3 separate regions of the Homo sapiens genome follow, and all the other regions are reported to be linked to region 2. The links are microRNA targets in miRTarBase. Many come from high-throughput screens and were not tested one by one. Region 2 holds a microRNA gene; each other region holds the end of a gene's coding sequence. Distances are between the middles of the regions.

Evidence for each region. The annotated mature microRNA hsa-miR-28-3p reads CACUAGAUUGUGAGCUCCUGGA and lies in region 2 at 1,878-1,899, opposite strand. An mRNA with a match to its seed (bases 2 to 7 or 8) in the 3' UTR can be bound and repressed. Matches are read on the target gene's strand: a 7mer-m8 pairs with bases 2 to 8, a 7mer-A1 pairs with bases 2 to 7 and ends in A, and an 8mer does both.
Region 1: the mRNA of YDJC is a reported target of hsa-miR-28-3p. The part of its 3' UTR that is shown has no 7-base or 8-base seed match.
Region 3: the mRNA of AZI2 is a reported target of hsa-miR-28-3p. Seed matches in the 3' UTR shown: 7mer-A1 at 2,895-2,901, 8mer at 1,338-1,345 and 7mer-A1 at 174-180.

The regions. Positions count from the first base shown.
Region 1 is chr22:21,625,573-21,628,786 of GRCh38, forward strand. It overlaps YDJC (YdjC chitooligosaccharide deacetylase homolog), which reads right to left. Exons shown (of 5, transcript NM_001017964.2): 5 at 2,517-3,214. The coding sequence ends at 2,846. Among named protein-coding and RNA genes, the nearest start is that of YDJC, 2.8 kb to the right of the region's middle. RefSeq lists a silencer at 1-80 and an enhancer at 2,284-2,891.
Region 2 is chr3:188,687,475-188,690,732 of GRCh38, reverse strand. It overlaps MIR28 (microRNA 28), which reads right to left and starts at 1,952; the gene lies at 1,867-1,952. The region is part of intron 7 of LPP (LIM domain containing preferred translocation partner in lipoma); the gene reads right to left.
Region 3 is chr3:28,320,971-28,324,212 of GRCh38, forward strand. AZI2 (5-azacytidine induced 2) reads right to left here. Exons shown (of 8, transcript NM_022461.5): 8 at 77-3,242. The coding sequence ends at 3,072. CMC1 (C-X9-C motif containing 1) reads left to right here. Exons shown (of 4, transcript NM_182523.2): 4 at 1-3,242. Among named protein-coding and RNA genes, the nearest start is that of ZCWPW2, 26 kb to the right of the region's middle.

The sequences.
Region 1 (3,214 bases), not on the chromosome of region 2:
CAGAGTGGACCCTCCAGACACGAATGCCGAGTGGGCGGATAACAGTGAACCGCTTGGCTAAGACACTGTTGCTGCCCCCACAGCCCCTGTGGCCCACCAGTCACCACCCCAACAGGTCCTTATCACTTTCACCTCCTCGTGAGATGGGCCTCATTATAATCAGGTGGGCCTGATTATCCTACCAGTCTATGCCCCCTCACTTCAGTTTTTTTTTTTTTTTTTTTTTTTGAGTCAGGCTCACTCTGTCACCCAGGCTAGAGTGCAGTGGCATGATCACTGCTCCCTGCAGCCTCTACCTCCCAGGCTGAGTCGATCCTCCTATCTCTGCCTCCTGAGTAGATGGAACTACAGGCTTGTGTCACTACACCCGGCTAATTTTTGTATTTTTTATAGAGACAGGGTTTTGGCATGTTACACAGTCTGGTCTCAATCTGCTAGCCTCAAGCCTTCCTCCCGACTCAGCCTCCCAAAGTGCTGGAATTACAGGCGTGAGCCACTATGCCCAGCCATTATTTTTTCTTTTTTAAATAACAGAAATAAGGTCTTAGTATGTTGTCTAGGCTGGTCTGGAACTCCAGAGCTCAAGTGATCCTCCCACTTCAGCCTCCCAAAGTGCTGGGATGATAGGTGTGAGCCACTGTGCCTGGCTTCACTTCACTCAAATGCTCATGGTCAGCCGGCTGCTGTGGCTGATGCCTGTTAATTCCAACACTTTAGGAAAGGCCAAGGTGACCAGATCTCTTGAGCCCAGCAGTTTGAGACCAGCATGGGCAACATGCCAAAACCCCATCTCTACAAAAAATACAAAAATGAACCAGGCATGCCTGTGCTCCCAGCTCCTCAGGAGGCCATGGTGGGATGATCACCTGAGCCTGGGGAGGTGGAGAACTGCAGAGACGTGATTGTGCCACTGTACTCCAGCCTGGGTGACAGGATGAAATCCTGTCTTTAAAAAGAAAAAAAAAGTCTCACGGTCCCCAGGGCTGCTGTCGACTCTGCTCATCCCTCCTTCCCTCCCTGAGTGACAGTAGCCACTCATATAGCATCTGTGCAGACCCCCAGGTCTCTCCTGCCCACCCACACCTCTCCTGAGCCTAAAGCTGCACAACCAGCTGCCTCCTCCTCTCAGAACACTTCCATAACAGAAGCCCCTCAAGGGAGCTACGTCTGTATCCCCGGCTAACTTCAGGCCACCCCTCTCCCAGCCTTAGCCAGCAGCCTGCAGGAGTGTGGCCAGATCTCAGCAGGCTGAGGCGAGGAGGTGGAGGCTAGGCAGCAGGAGGAGCAACTGTACAGTGATTCCAGCTCACAAGCATGGGTGCAAGAAAGCAGGAAAAGTGCTGCAGATGGGAGAGTCCAAGTCTAGTGAAGGTCAAGATGGAAGACGAGTGTGGAGCCAGAAAAAGGGACTGAAGCCACAGTCAAGGGGATGGGGCCATGAGTGGGTAGAAGCAGGAAGGAGGAGCGACATCCCACACTCACCCTTCAGAAAGCCACACGTCTCTCCAAGCTGCCTAGGCTGGATGAGAGCTCTCTTGGCCCCTGATTCCATGTTTGGCCCAGGCTAGGGCCCAGTGCACATTAAATAAATGAATGAGTAGTTTCAAAGCCCTGCTCTGCCACTCCTGCCTCTACCCCTGTAAAATGGGGACATCGGTGCCTGCCTCATAGATGCTATTTCATGAAATGAGACAAGGACCACATGGTATTCCATCTGCCTTTCCATCCTGCGGAGTGGTGCAGAAGGACTCTGTGCTCTAGAGGACTCGCACTGCCTTCCCCATCTGCTCCTGCACCTCAGGAGCTTTCAGCTAAGCCACATGCGGCCCCAGTCCACAGGGCATCCCTACATTGCCAGAAGTTAGGAACCATGGTATCCCATTTCCCGGGAAGACTGCTCCTCCTAGAAAAATTTAAATGTATTCCCACAGGGTTGCAGGGTCTCCTCACGCCTATCCCGTAGAATGGCTTACATCTAAACAGATGACTTTTGTTTTTGAGATGGAATTTCGCTCGTTACCCAGGCTGGAGTGCAGGGGCGCGACCTCGGCTCACCACAACCTCCGCCTCCCGGGTTCAAGCGATTCTCCTGCCTCAGCCTCTCCAGTAGCTGGGATTACAGACATGCACCACCAATGCCCAGCTAATTTTGTATTTTTAGTAGAGATGGGGTTTCTCCATGTTGGTCAGACTGGTCTCGCACTCCTGACCTCAGGTGATCTGCCCGCCTCGGCCTCCCAAAGTGCTGGGATTACAGGTGTGAGCCACCACACTCAGCCTACAGGTGACTTCTTAAATCAATACTGAGATTATAGTATTATGCCTCTTCCAAAGCAGCCTGGTGAGGACAATCTCCCACTCCCACCCTAAAAAGGAATAAAGAAAATTGCAGCATGAACAAAACCAGAATGGAGAATGGGCCATTTCCTGGAGTGGTTTGAGCCAAGAGGGAGCTGCTCTTTGTCCGTGCTTGTTTCTCTGAGGGTCTCCTGGGCACAGCTGATAAACCACCCAAGTTTGAAAGACACACGTTATTTTATTAATATAGCCATCTCTCCCCACTGCCCCAGTGGTGAAGGTGTTTGCATTGCAACATGGAGGGGCACCAAATGCTCTGCGGGCCCTAGCCCGCTGCCACAGGCTAGGCCTGCCTGCAGCCAAGAAGGCTGCTCAAACTCTAGATGCCATTTGGAGGCATGAGGACCTGAGCCCAGAGGTGGCAGTGTCCTACCCAGGGAAGTCAACAGATCGTGCTCCAGGTCCCAGCTCTGGGCTGGGCCAGGACTAAATCCTGGCTCCCCTTTCTTGGTACTAAGGGGATTAGTGCTTGGTTGTCTGTAGGGGGTCAGAGTAGGGAGGGTTCCAGGAAGGGTTCCAGAGTGGGCTCACAGGGGACCTCCTCCCCTGGCCTCTTGGAGTCCAGGTCGTCGAGGGCGCAAAGCTGCACGCCATCCTGGGCAAGCTGGGCCCGCAGCGTGGGCGCGGTGAGGACGCGCAGCTCATGCAGCCGCTCCCAAGAGCAAGAGAAAGCGTCGGGGCCTTCACCGCAGCCGCCGGTGGGAGGCACACTGGGGTAGCCGGGGTGCGCCATCAGCTCGGCTGTCAGGGTGTGGCCCGCTAGGGTACCTTCCAGGACCCGCGCCAGGGCCCCGGACACGCGGTGAGCGGACATGTGCCGGCCGCAAGTGCTCAGGCCCACGAAGGCGTCTGTCCA
Region 2 (3,258 bases):
TACCAAACTACCCCTAAAAGAAGAAGAAGAATGTGGAAAGAGAGAACACTTTGACTATTCTCTCCTTCTACCAGGGTCTGACTACAGGGATTTTGGTAAGTATTTATAGAACCCATCTACATTTTACACAGCTATTTATCATCCTTTAAAATGTGTTATTGCTTGTGCTCAAAGGGAACACGAAAATTAGGGCACCGTATCCATTCCAACTTGTAGATTAAAGGAACACAGAATGTTTTTTGAAACATTAGAAAAATTAGATGTAAAACCACAAATAAAGAAAAAAACTTATCTTTCAGGGAGCAGACCCCTTGAAACAACATATTTTTTGCTTCAACAAATACTTTCTGCTAGCATTACTGTGGCATACTAAGAAGTTTATCGATTTAGAGTTATCAAGCTCTAACCTCCAAAGGAAAAGCCTAACCCCGAGCAAACAGCAATACTGACATGTCACATAGCGTAATGAACACTGGACTCGGGAGCCAGAGGACTAGGATTTATGCCCCAAGCCTGCTGCATACTAGTCACATGACCTAGCTATGTCACATAATCTCTCTGCATCTCGCCTGCTTATTCTAGACTAGGTCAATTCCATTTGCACTTTATAAGGTAGGTATGAAGATGATGACCTTTGGGAGCATTATGCACATCTTTCAGAGTTTGTCACATGTAAATATTGGCAATATCTTGGGTTACCTTGTGATAAAGTCAGGGAAACAGATGCAGTGATTTCACAGGTCAGAGAAGGATATTCAACTTAAAAATCCCATTCTGGATTTTCTAAGGTCACTTATTGAGCCAAAAAAAAAAAATGAGCTCAGAATTCCTGATATACCATCATGTGTCAATGGGACAAAAATTACTAATATTTATCTCACTAGTTTCTGATACAACAGGAAACCTCTAACAAACAGGTAGCATAATAAGCTATATGGATTTGGGCAAGTCACTTCACTTCTGTGGGTCTCAACTATACCCATTCCTCCGCTCACTTGTGATTCAACAAATATAGTAAAGGGTACTAATTCTTACCATATGGACCTCAGAGAGACTATTAGGAACTGTGAAGTGAGATAATGAACTGTGAAAATTCTCCGAAAACAATGAAATGTCAAACAAACCTGGAGGACATTATGTTGAGTGAAATAAGCCAGGCACAGAAAGATAAATATTGCATGATCTCACTCAAGTGTGGAATCTAAAAAAGTTGATCTCATGGAAGTAGAGAGTAGAATAGTGGTTAACACCTCCTCTAAGCCACTGTGAGAAGGACTCCATCACTTGCAAATACAATTGATTACACAAAGCACAAGCAAGTCAACTTTTCCTGCCAAGAAGATTTGTTGCCCTTGGTGAAATAATAGCATTCTGGCCAGAAAGGAAATTTCATCATTTTCCTATGACTTCGATTCTGACTTTTGCAATATGCATGCCTGGGCTTCAGAGTCCAGAACCCAATTCTGGCCCTGTTAGTTTACAGCCTAGAGCCAGTGATTTGATCACTGACTGAGCTGAGGATAGATTTGCTAACTACCATAGCTGGGTGCCAGGCCGACCCCAGGCTCAAATCCTCCCAACACTGAGGCTGCATAGACAGGCTCTCCAGCCAAGCAGGCAGCAGAAGTGTCCTGAATGTTTACCATGTACCAGGCACAGAGATAGAGGAGGAAATAGCATACACAGAGCTCCTGCTGTGTCAATCACATCTCATTCTTTTCTCGTTTAATCTTTCCCTGATGAGGTAGGCAGTATTAGCTCTGATTTTCAGAGCAGTTAACAGATGTGAACAAAGTTAAAATAATAGAGGCGGGATTGTAATCTAGGATTAACACTGAAATTTAAGCTCTTTTTCAGATGAACGAAAGTGCCTGCCCTCCAGGAGCTCACAATCTAGTGGGAAAGTCAGAAAGGTAACTCAATAGACTGTGAGCTCCTTGAGGGCAAGGACCATTTTAAATTTTTTCTTGTATCTTCAGCATCAAGCATGTTGTCTACCATGCAAAAGGCACTTAATAAGTGCTTGCTGAATAGACAAGCCATATTTAGATGTTGCCCTTCATAAAATACAAACCTAATTATATTACTCATCTGACTTCACAAACCTCTTCTAGCTCCTCTTTGTCAAACTCCTGAGTACTACTTAGAAAGTCCTTGAAGGGCCTGCCTTCATAGTCTCATCTTCTGTGATTCCCTTCCACATCCTCTGTGTACCACACTTCCATCTTCCAACTATCTTGGCATATAGGTGGTGTTCAACAAATGTTCATTGAATGGGCAAACAAAGCCAAGAAGGGATATATCTGCATAACATCAGAGGCATCAATATAATGCCTTATGAACACCAAGGGTAGATTTATCCAACTGAAGGCATCAGGAAGGTTTCACAGAAGACAGGACAATTGATTTGAGTCATTAACTCTAAAATCTCAAAGGCTAGATGACATTGCATAGGGAAAATTCAATCCTCTTTTGCTATTAATTAGGCAAATGACATCATAACAAAACATTTTTCTTTAAACCAGAATATGAGCTGTGCCAAATTCCGTCATCTAAAGGATATGGGTTTAGGCCAAAAGCCCATCATATAGATTATTGTTTTTCTTCTCCCAAGTACTTTGGAAAAACTAAGTCTCATTTGGCATGCAGTGCCTCTCAGCAAGGTCATGGTTCTTCTGCCGTGGTGCCTGGGGCAGTTAAGGTAAGAATTGTGTTTCAAAAAAATACCTCAGACACTGTTAAGAATAAGATAACGTGGTGAAACCCCGTCTCTACTAAAAATACAAAAAAATTAGCCAGGCATGGTGATGGGCGCCTGTAGTCCCAGCTACTCGGGAGGCTGAGGCAGGAGAATGGCATGAACCCGGGAGGTGGAGGTTGCAGTGAGCCGAGATCGTGCCACTGCACCCCAGCCTGGGCGACAGAGCGAGACTTCATCTCAAAAAAAAAAAAAAAAAGAGTATAAGACAGCTGGTTAGACAGGATGACATGGGAATATTCAGAGCTTTGGTCAAGAAATCAGACCAATGAGTCAGTAAGAAAGGGTCATTGAATTACTCCATTTTCACACTGCTATAAAAAACTTCCCTGAGAATGGGTAATTTCTAAAGAGGTTTAACTGACTCACAGTTCCGCATGGCAGAGGAGGCCTCAGGAAACTTAAAATCATGGCAGAAGGGGAAGCAGGCACCTTCTTCACAAGGTGGCAGCAGAGGGAGAAGCGAGCAAGAGCAAGGAAAACTGCCTTAAAAATCTCAG
Region 3 (3,242 bases), 160 Mb from region 2:
ATGCAATAGATCTGAGAGATTTTTTTTTAAGAAAGAATTTAAATAGGACACTAAAGAATCAATTCAAGTTCCACACTTTACTCTTGAGTGAACCACTCAAAAAACTATTTTACTTTTATTTGAAATACAAAGAAACCACATTTTCCCAGGCCACAGATCAAAAGGAGGGAGATTACTAGAGCAGACAAAAGCAAAGCAAATATAGAAATCTAGAGACCACACAGCATAGGGGCAAACATGCCCATATTTCCACATTGACCTTTGGTATTGGTGCATTTCCTAGAGCACAGGAAGTTAACTGTTTTTAGAGATAAATGAAAATGGAAGAGTTACTTTAAGAAGCTAGTGAAATATACAATCTATTTTATAGCTTTGATTAAAATCAGAAGTAGCCCACTTCATGTAGAAAATTCACTTATGTACATGTTGCTTTCCCCATAGAAGCCAGATTAGATTACACAGTATAAATAATATGTTCATCCTCCTTATGTCAAAGACTAAACCATTCATTGTAGCCTTCAGAATACCCATGTGTATCCATACTGAAGATTTTTTTCACCTGGTACATCTGTCTCAGTTGTGTCTTGCTTGCTTATGGGTGCCTCTGTTGATATTATTCCCTGTTAATATGTGGTAACCCACAGGTTTTTTACCCCTTAAGATACACCTTCTCCAAGTAGCCTTTCTGAATTAAGATCAGTACTTTGTTGTCACATGATTCAGCTCTTCAAGTCTGAATTTTCCCATTTATTTTGGTTTTCTAATGTTTCACATAGGCATGTTCCTGCTTTTAAGAATTCAGTTCCATTTTGGCAGCAACTCAGTAAGTCTTACAGATGTAAATTTTACTTTAGCTAATAAGGGAGCAAGAGGAAGGAATAGGTGGCTTTTTGTTATGTTTTCTTCATTCTGTCGATTTATGGATGTACTGAATTGAACCTTATAAAAAGAAATCTAAAGATTCCAAAGGAAGCTCTTTAGAGCAAGTTTCAGCTAGTATGAAAGAAGTCAACATAAAATATTCAATTTTAAATAGATTCATAAGCTACAGATGGGCCACTGTTTTTTGGTTGTTTGAATTTTACCTAGAACAGAGATATCAAGTGTAGATTTAAAAGCTTCTAGCTGGGTAAAAAATTTTTGGCTAATCTTTCCTTACTAAAGAACCTTATACATCATTTGTCTAACACTTTAAACTGTCACAGTCACTGACTTTTTAGTATACCTGTTTGATAGCTATCATCACTGTACTGTTTAAATGGAAAATAATTTTCTCCACTCAAAAGCTGGTTTAACAAATGTCTATTGTATGAATCATATTAACAACCAACAATTAGTACTAGATTTTGAGATCTATAGGCAAGGACAATATTTCACATCCACTTCAATTTCAAACAAAAATATTTATTTTAATTAAACAATTTCTTGGTATTGTTCAAAACATTAATCAAGCAATTATCTCATAAGACTTTTTTTCTTTACAAAGGAAAATTTCCAATTTTGGTTTTAAAAAAGGCAAACCAGTAAGCTACATTAGAGATCAGATATAATATACAGCCTATGCAGCCACATGAGAAATAGTTTTTGCTGCTTTGTTATTACACAGGTAGTTGCTTCCTTCAGCTAAAGCCTGGAGTATTGTATTTCTTTTATGCATATTGGGTTTGGTTCTATTACTTGGCAGGAGATTGTACTCCCCTGAGTCAGCTGTGTTCATTGGTCAGAATAAATTCCAGCATCTGACACCAATTCCATTAATCACAGACAAGCTTGAATAAGTGTAAGATAATAGAAAAAAATATCTAGTGAATGGCGAACATTGTCTATGTATGTATGCTATTCAGTAATACAGTAGAAGAGATCTGAGATATTGAGTTCAAGATATATGAAACTGTCTATCAAAAAGGATAAAAGTCCTCCTACATGAAATACTTTAATTCAGGCAAAAGGTGTATGAACCAAGTAAATCTCCACCCTGAAAGAACTTAAATTTCCATGTGAAGCCATCTTTATTTCCTTCTTTATTTCCAAATAATTGGCCACTTAGAATAAGTGTGGACATTTCATGATCGACAATATCAATACAGCCCAAACCCTGATTTCTATGATTAAAAATAATAATTTTAAATCACTTTCTCAATAAATAGAATATTACATTTCAACACAAAGTCTAACAATTTAGAAGCTGCTCTACACAATGTGCAGCTAGCTGTAGTCTCTTTGAAGAAAATGACTTTTTATCATTACACACATTTATGTTTATATTATGGCCCACAGAAGGGCAGATTAGACTGAAATCTGTGTGATGCTCCTTCTACTACTTATTGAATAGTGTGTAGGGTTACAATCATTTGTTTACACCCCAGAGTTTTTCAACTATTTCATTTTTTTTTTTTTTTTTCCCAATTAGGACTTAAGGAATGTGCTGGGACAAAGTTGGCTTCAGTGATCAGGTTGTTTCAAGTCTTAGAATTCAAACTTCAATTCTAAAAAAATTTTATCAACAAAACACTGTGACCAAAAAATCACTTTAAATCTTAAATATTGAAACGCAATAGCATATAAAGATGGTATAACCTAAGATGCTTTTATTTCATTATATTTTCAATATCTTTACGCATTATAACAACAGAAATGTAACCTACTCACATTGCCATTTGTTCCATTATGCAATTTGAAGAAACATGTTTTCCTTTTATTTTTATGAACAGATATTTAGACATTTCACATTTTGTAAAACCACGTCTACAATCTCCAATTCCATTCTTCTGAGAGGCAAAATTTTACAATTAATATAGAAGGCAGAGTTTTTTAAACACCTTAAGTTTACTTATTAATTAGTATAGTAGCATATTTCAGATTCTTAGAATATGGAGCTAGAGGGTGCTCTTTCATACTAGAAAACCAACTATGTTGGTTTTTGTACTATTGTACAGTGTGTTCAAATATAGATACTGAAGACCTCTGCAAAATTTTAATCAAAATCTCCTTTCAGTTTGTTAAATAATTTCTTGGGAGGACCACTGAAAGAGATAAGTGTCCTCATGGTGAAATCGTGAATCTCTTCCAAATTAATTCTTATAAAGGCAGTTCTGATTATGTTGATCCAAGTAATGCAGTGGTGGAAGGTTGGGTAAAGGCAAAGTTTTAGTTTTAGTTTCCCCAAATGCTGTCTCACTTGATTTAGGAGGACTTGGAAATACCCAGGAATTGTCTTCCAGAGAATTTCTGCCATAAGAACT